2 linked regions of the Homo sapiens genome follow. The protein of the gene in region 1 purifies or fractionates together with the protein of each later gene. This does not show direct contact. Each region holds a gene or a part of one and is shown in the gene's direction. Other genes may lie near its edges.

What was found.
Region 2: the proteins of FRMD3 (region 1) and LMBR1 purify together in Homo sapiens (affinity purification with mass spectrometry; one large-scale study listed by BioGRID and IntAct). This does not show direct contact.

The regions. Positions count from the first base shown.
Region 1 is NC_000009.12:83,304,283-83,308,107, reverse strand, and holds part of FRMD3 (FERM domain-containing protein 3), read left to right. Parts: intron 1-3,825. UniProt on the Homo sapiens protein: Putative tumor suppressor gene that may be implicated in the origin and progression of lung cancer.
Region 2 is NC_000007.14:156,756,903-156,760,727, reverse strand, and holds part of LMBR1 (limb region 1 protein homolog), read left to right. Parts: intron 1-3,825. UniProt on the Homo sapiens protein: Putative membrane receptor.

The DNA.
Region 1 (3,825 bases):
CACTGGGTGAGATGACGCACAAAATGCTGTGCTAGGAATGATTGGAGAAGGTGATGTGTACCAGTAGACCTTCCTGTGACCACCACCACCTCAAGGTCTTTGTGTGCCTCCTGCATGTTTGGGGACTGATAAGGAAGGAGACCAGTTGGCCTTCGGAAAATCTACATGTCTAGAAGCCTTCACCCACATGAGAGTTCAGAGAGGGAAACACAGAGGGTTTGATGCTCTCAGTCTTTAGTTGGAGCCTTAGTGATTTTTTATTTTGTTTTAAAAAAAATTTTTTAAATGGAAATCTAATTTACATGCCGTAAAATTTACCCTTTTAAAGTATACAGTTTTGTGGTTTTTAGTGTAATTCACAAAGTGATATAGCCATTATCACTATCTAATTCCAGAATATTTTTATCCTTCCCAAAATAAACCTTATGCCAGTTAGCAGTCATTTCCCATTTCCTCCTCCCCCCAATCTCTGGCAACCACTAATCTACTTTCTGTTTTTATGGATTTACCTATTATAAGTTGTATATAAGTGGAATCATAAACGATGTGGCCATTTGTGCCTGTTGTCACAAAATGTGTCCAAAGTTCACCCATATTATAACATGTCTCAGTACTTTATTCCTGTTTATGATTGAATGACACTGCATTGTTTCAATAGACCACATTTGGTTTATCCATTCATCAGTTGATGCTCACTTGGGTTGTTACCTCTTTTTAGCTACTATGAGTAATGCTGCTACGAGCATTGGATACAAGTTTTTGTGTGGACAGTTCTCTTGGGCATATACCTAGGATGGAACTGCTGGGTCATAGGGTAACTCTATATTTAGCTTTTTGAGGACCTGACACATTGTTTTCAGTGCCTAAGCTTTTGGAACTCTTCTGTTCTTTCTTGAATGAAACCATCTGTTTCCTGTCAAAGGATAACTTACAGATGTTCAGTTAGTTATTTTCAGTGAATATTTTCTTGCATATGAGGGAATTAAAAATGGAGTGAAGAAACAAGGCAAAAACAAGATCTACCATGACATGATTTTATTACAGAATTTTATATATCTGTACTATGTATCTGTACTAGATCTGATTTCTATTTTTTTAACCTGTATTCATGATTTGTATTTAGGTTAAAGTCATGTAACATAAAATTAATTATTTTAAAGTGTACAATTCAGTGGCAGAGTATGTTTAAAATGTTGTCCAACCATCATTTCTATCTATTTCCAAACATTTTCATCAATCCCAGAAGGAAACTATATACTCACTGAGGAGTTACTCTCCCTTGTTCCTTTCTCCAAGACTTCTATTGGATTGTAGATTTTTCCATACCAACATGTCAGATCTGTAATCAGTTTGAACTCTCTGAGGGTAGGAACTTTTTCTGCTTTTTTTATTTCCTGAAGATCTCAGGCATTGAAAACACATTTACTAGCTCAGATTGATAAGGCATGATTCCTGTCCTCAGGAGATTGTTATTTCATGTAAGAGACCAAGGGGGAAATGAAAAAAAAAGAAAAAAGCTAGAGAGGAATCCAGAGGAGAGGGTGAATCTTGCTGCCAGGGGAGCTAGGAGGTAGAAGACCCTTTTAGGTGGAGGAAGGACATCCAAGCTCCCGTAGGGTACCATGGCAGGAATGTGGAGGATGCATTTTGTGGGACATGAGTGGCTACAAGGTTGGAGCAGAGGGTAGATGAGGTAGAAAAAGAGGTGATAAGGGACCAGGAGGTCTTGAGGCCAGACACGGATGGCTTGACCAGTGTGAAAGAGGCAACAGAGGTGCAGTAGGTGTGGTTGATCATTCTTTACGTGCAGACAGACCTATGGGAGGGGGTGATACAGGAGAACACCTAGCAGACAGGCCTTCCTTTAGAGCCACACAGCAAGTTTTGCTTGGAAGGACTTTGGCACAGCCTTGAAGATACTTTAGTGAAATCACTGGGTCCGTATCAAAGAATAACTTGGAGACATTCATTTGCTATTTCACGCACGTTGTTTTATCATATATGAGGAAGTCAGTTGGGAGACAGAGTTAAATAAAGGCAAAAACAAAATTGAGAGGAGAAAGGGAGAGAAAAAACCTGCAATATGGAAAATGTGTTTTACACATTTTGGGTAAGCAGATTAGCTGGCAGCTAGTAAGGAAGGTATTCTGGTAATTTTATCATGAACTAGGTAGGTCAACTTGGCATGTCAGAGAAGTCCCTTCCAGTCACTTGTGGATGCTTCAGAAGACTTGGAGGGTTTAGCTGTGAGCACAAGTGACAAACTGTATATGGTTGACCAGTCTTTGCATTGGCACTTTGGCTATAGTTAACCAAGCTACCCTCATCTCATTCGACTTCTAAACCTGAATATTTATAGCCGTCTGAGATTTGCCTGAACATTTTGTTCCTCCATTATCCCATAACCATCCTTGTTCCTGAGGAAGGAGGGGAAGTATCACTTGTTCTGGCCCAGCTGTGGGACCTTGGCCAGGTCACTTTAGTGCTGTCTGGTCTTAGCCTCCTCACCTGTAGAATGAATGGGCCTGGGACTGACCTGGGTGCATTTGCTTGTACCACTGGGGCATAGTGTAATGAGTGTGAGCTTTGGAAGTCAATGGGCTTGGTTCTAAGTCTTGACTCTGTCATTTATAGCAGTGTGGCCTGGAACAAAGCTGTTAATCTCTTGGAGCCTCATCTTTATTTTTCATCTGTGAAATGAGATTGAATTACCTGCCTTGCTGTGCTCAGTTCTGCCAGGCATATGAACCATTGATGAGCAGAAGCTGCTGCTGTATTACTGCCCCCTCTGCTAATGATGAGAGTATTTTGAGCAGCAGTTGGATGAAGAGCCCACTCCTTTTCATTGGGAAGACTCTGATTATGGTAACCTCAGGGGTATGCCTGCTTCCTTCACTGTGACCACCCTTCCCTGGGCAGAGGTCCTGGCCCTGCTTCTAGCTCTGTCCTGCTGGCCCTGCATTTTAATGGTTTCAGCTGGCAGAGCAAGGCCCTAATCTTGTTTCCTAGATGGTTTGTTCCTTCCATTTTTACTTCACCTGCATGGGAGCGGGGAGGCCCGGGGCCTCTGCTTGCGAATTCCCCAGTGTGCTTTTAGGACGCAAATGCGCTGCTGGTTGTCAGCTGGCCCAGGGCCACAGATCTGTTTTGAAAGCCCTGGCTCTGAGATCTGCCTGGGAATGGAGCCCAGACGCAGAAACTCTGATTTTTCCCGCCTACTCCAGACCCCAGGGGATCTCCAACACAGACTTATTCACCATTTAAGAGCTTCCTTTATACCATGTGTGGTCTGTCATGGTGCTGCCAACCCCAGAGCTCACTGTTTCTGGGTGCTGGTTCACTGAAAGCACACTGGACGCATTGAGGGATTCAGTGGCTCACTGATGTTTTCATTAACAGCATCTTTATCTCACAGTTTTTGCTGTGTACTGGATACATGGTTGAGGCTGTATGACACTGTGTTCCCAATTTGTTTTGGAATTGTGTGCAAGGGATAAAAGCAGTTCCTAATACATTTCTTATTCAGAGTTTGGTGTACATTTTGTCAAAGGAACAGTGTTATGCTTGGTAGGTAAGAACCCAGACTAGCTCCCTAAACAAGTGCCTCTCACACTTGAATGCACACATGAATGAGCTGGGGAGCTGGTTAAAATGTGCATTCTAATTCAAAAGGTCTGGGGTGGGCATGAGAGTCCATATTTTTAATAAATTCCAGGGGATACTGTGCGGTGGGTCCGTAGACCACACTCCAAGTAATAAGGTTCTAAATCAGCAGTTCTCAATCCTGACTACATTAACATCACCTGGAGGAGCTTTTAAAAACTA
Region 2 (3,825 bases), on another chromosome or scaffold:
TAAAAAATGCGTAAATACATTTTACAAAAAGTATGTAAATGTTGTATACACACTTGTGTACCACACACATGCTGCCAAGTCTTGAAATTCCTTTCCCTTGTAAAGAGGTTTTGGGACATTGAATTCATTTAGTTTCTTCCTACATTTGTTGTTGTTTGTTTGTTTGTTTGGTCTTCTTTCTCCTTTTCTGCTTCCTGACCCCTAACTATAGGCAAATGTTTAAAGTTCCATCATTGGTCTAAATTTCTATTAATGCTCTGCTCCTAAACCATCTCTGCCATTTCCACATCACTTTTAAATGCCTAATTCTAATGAGGAAAAGACAATGGAAACAAATTCCAGTACATTTTAAGTGCTATAATTGAATACCCCATGGAGCTGAAAACTCAACGTATATAAAACGAAACTACTTACTTAGCTCCCTTCCCCAAGCTAATTTTTCTCCTTAACTTGTCTCTTATTAATGTTAAATATAGTGAACCCCAAGTTTTTCCTCAAAGAATCAGTATGTCAGTGTGTTCAGCTCTCTTCTTCTTCGATTCTCCATTTTAAAGTTTAACTTCCTGGTTCTCTTCTCCCCCTTGCCTCTGGTTTCAGTAAACAACTTTCCCACCAGTCCTAATCAGTATTTCACATCTGTTCGCTGGTCACCTGCTCCATCCTGACTCACCCCTGGTCACCTTCTTTGACCTGAGTCACCCCTGGTCACCTGCTTTGACCTAAGTCATCTTTAGTTACCTGTTCCTAACTGTCCTTCCTGCTAGACTAGTCACCCTGCCACTCTGGCTCATATGCCTGCTCCCTTTAAAATAGCCAGTCGGAATTAGCTTAGACTGTGTGGTCCAACCATTGTCAATAGGGGAACGACACACTAGTAGGGCCCTGTGTCAGAAATAAGAACTCCTTCCCCTCCCCTGTGCAGGTGTGCTCTCTCCATTACTCCATTTGCCAGTCGCACCCTTCTATAGAAGTAAAAATTGCCTTGCTGAGAAAATTAAATTTATGTTCGAGTGCTATTTCTTTGCAGCACCAGGGAACGAGCATTTTGCATTTCTAACATTAACAGTATCCTCAAAGTCTTGTCTTTGTTTCTTTTCTTGTTGGTAACATTCAGTAATAAAGATTATTTATTGAGTAATTGAGTGTATTATATATGCTAGCAATAAACACTATATTTTACACACATAATTTCATTTTATCCTGATGACAAACCTATAAGTTAGATAGTAGTATTCTTATTTTATGGCTAAACTAATGTCATTTCAGGAAGATTAAGTAGCTTGTACAAGATCAGAGATCTATGAGGGGGCAGAGTGTGAACCCAAGAGGCTGGTTTCATACCAGAAGCTGGTCTGCCATTCTATTTTGCTGTAAGCTCCAGAGCTGTAAAACCGATTTGTTTGCTGAGTGGACTTTACCCCTCCACTTCTGTGTTCTGCTTACAGTTTCCTCTAATTGAAATGCCTTTCTTTTGGTAATTTAAGCTGTCAGATAAGATGCTACTATGCTACTACCATCAAAAACACTGGTCGAAACTTTTGTCTCCCCATCTGGGAATAATTTTTCTTCCTTTGAACTTTTGTAATGTTTTATTTAAGCCACGGTTATGACTTTAACAAATCTTCTAATTATTTTTTAAATTCATCTGCTCTCTTCTGCTACACTAGAATATCAGCTGTTTGAGGTCAAGGACTATGTCTTACCCATATTTAAGCCCCCATTAGCCCATAGTAGTTGAGTATAGGGTTTGAAGGCACGTAACATTTCTTTGGTAACCCTGCTTCTTGGAATATAAAATGGAGATGAGAACAGTCTGTTTTTCGTAGGATTGTTGTAGAAATCAAGGAGGATGGTGCTCATAAGAACTTAACACAAATATATGTGTGTTATTTACATTGTCACTGCATTAGTCTATTATGCATTGGTATAAACCTGAGGCTGAGTAATTTATAAAGAAGAGAGGTTTATTTGGCTTATGGTTCTGCAGGCTGTACAAGAAGCATGGCACTGGGACCTGCCTCTGGCTAGTGCTTCAGGAAGTTTCCAGTCATGGCGAGAGGCAAACGAGGAGCATTTGTGTCACAGGGCAAGAGAGGGAGCAGGCGAGAGAGAGGTCCATACTCTTTTAAACAACCTGCTGTCATGTGAACAAATAGAGCAAGAACTCAGTTATTACTGTGTGGACAGCACCAAATCGGTTATTCATGAGAGATCCACCCCCATGACCCAAATACTTCCTACAGGGTCCCACCTCCAATACTGGGGATCAGATTTCAACATGAGGTTCTGAAGGGACAAATATCCAAACTACATCAGTCACTCATTCACACTAAGACATACCCGTGGTGATAAGTAATTCTTGGACAATTTGCATAAGAAAGATAAAAATCCTTTTGTATGCCTTAGACCTTATGTAAAAACTGTCAATTCTGATCCAGATAGTAGAAAGTGAAAAGAAGTGTTGATGGGAAAGGAACTTTGGATCAAGGCCCCCAAGGACCTGGTCCCAGACATGTGGGTTTTCTCTGGGATTCCTCTCCCCTAACCCACTGCATCCAGGAGATCCTCTCCGTGTACCACTCTTTCTCCTCGGGAGTAGCTCACATTCCAGCACTTGCCACTCATTTCAGCCTAAATGTTCCCTCTTTGGAGAGGGCTTGCTGGCTGGCCATTTAGGTATCTCTTCCCCTTTTCTTCCTATTCCTTTCTTCCTCATAGGATGGTCATTCTTTGTCATTATTTGTTTGTATATTTATTTGTTTATTACTGTTGATTATTATTTTAGTATTTGTTTTTTCTCACCTTCCAAGTCAGGCTTCTCAAGGATCGAGTTGGTATGTGTGCCAGTGATGAGTTCAGTGCTAGGTCATAGGGGACCGTAAAGATTTGTTGAAAGGCTGGGAATTATTGGATTGCTTCAAATAAATTTCACATCAGCTGTATAAATTGGACATCTGACAGGGATTGCATGATTTGAAAATCTGTTTTCTGAAAATACTTTAAAGTCTGAAAGGAGATGTATATATGGTTTCTGTCTTTTTGTCCATTAGCTCCTCACAATTTATTTTTTTTGCTGAGTGTGAGTAGTTTGGATGTGAGGATATGGAACACTGATATCAGCTCTAGACTTCTTTGAGATTTGCCCTACAGCTACGAAGATAATAAGGATCCTCTCAGAAGGATAGCTATGTTAACAAAACTAGAATTAAATCAATTTTAGGATTTTTAACAGTGCAGACAATATCCCATACAATTGGTAAATTATTAGTATGGTTTTTTCTTTTGAACTACTGTTGTTTGACTTGGTTTGTATGTAAACATACCACTTCTCTAGATTTTGGTCTATTGGATGATTTTGATAATACCAATCTTTAATATTCATGGAGTGTTTTTAGTACATAAAGATGATATAAATGGAAAGTGTTGCATGTTACTGATGTAGTTTATGGATTTCTTGTTTTAGACATTATGTAGGTAAATGTAAATGAGAAAACAAATGTTGGACTGGGTGTCTGTTCCTTCTATCTCTAAAATATTGGCTTGGGCCTATATTTACTGTAGTTATTTACCGTAGTTAGCTTTTTGGCTGTTTAAAATTGGTACATGTAGGCTGGGCGGGTGTGGTGGCTCACTTCTATAATCCCAGCACTTTGGGAGGCTGAGGCAGGCGGATCACCTGAGGTCAGGAGTTCAAGACCAGCTTGGTCAACACGGTGAAACCCGTCTCTACTAAAAATACAAAAATTAGCTGGGCATGGTTGTGTGTGCCTGTAGTTCCAGCTACTAGGGAGGTTGAGGTGGGAGGATCGCTTGACCCCGGGAGGC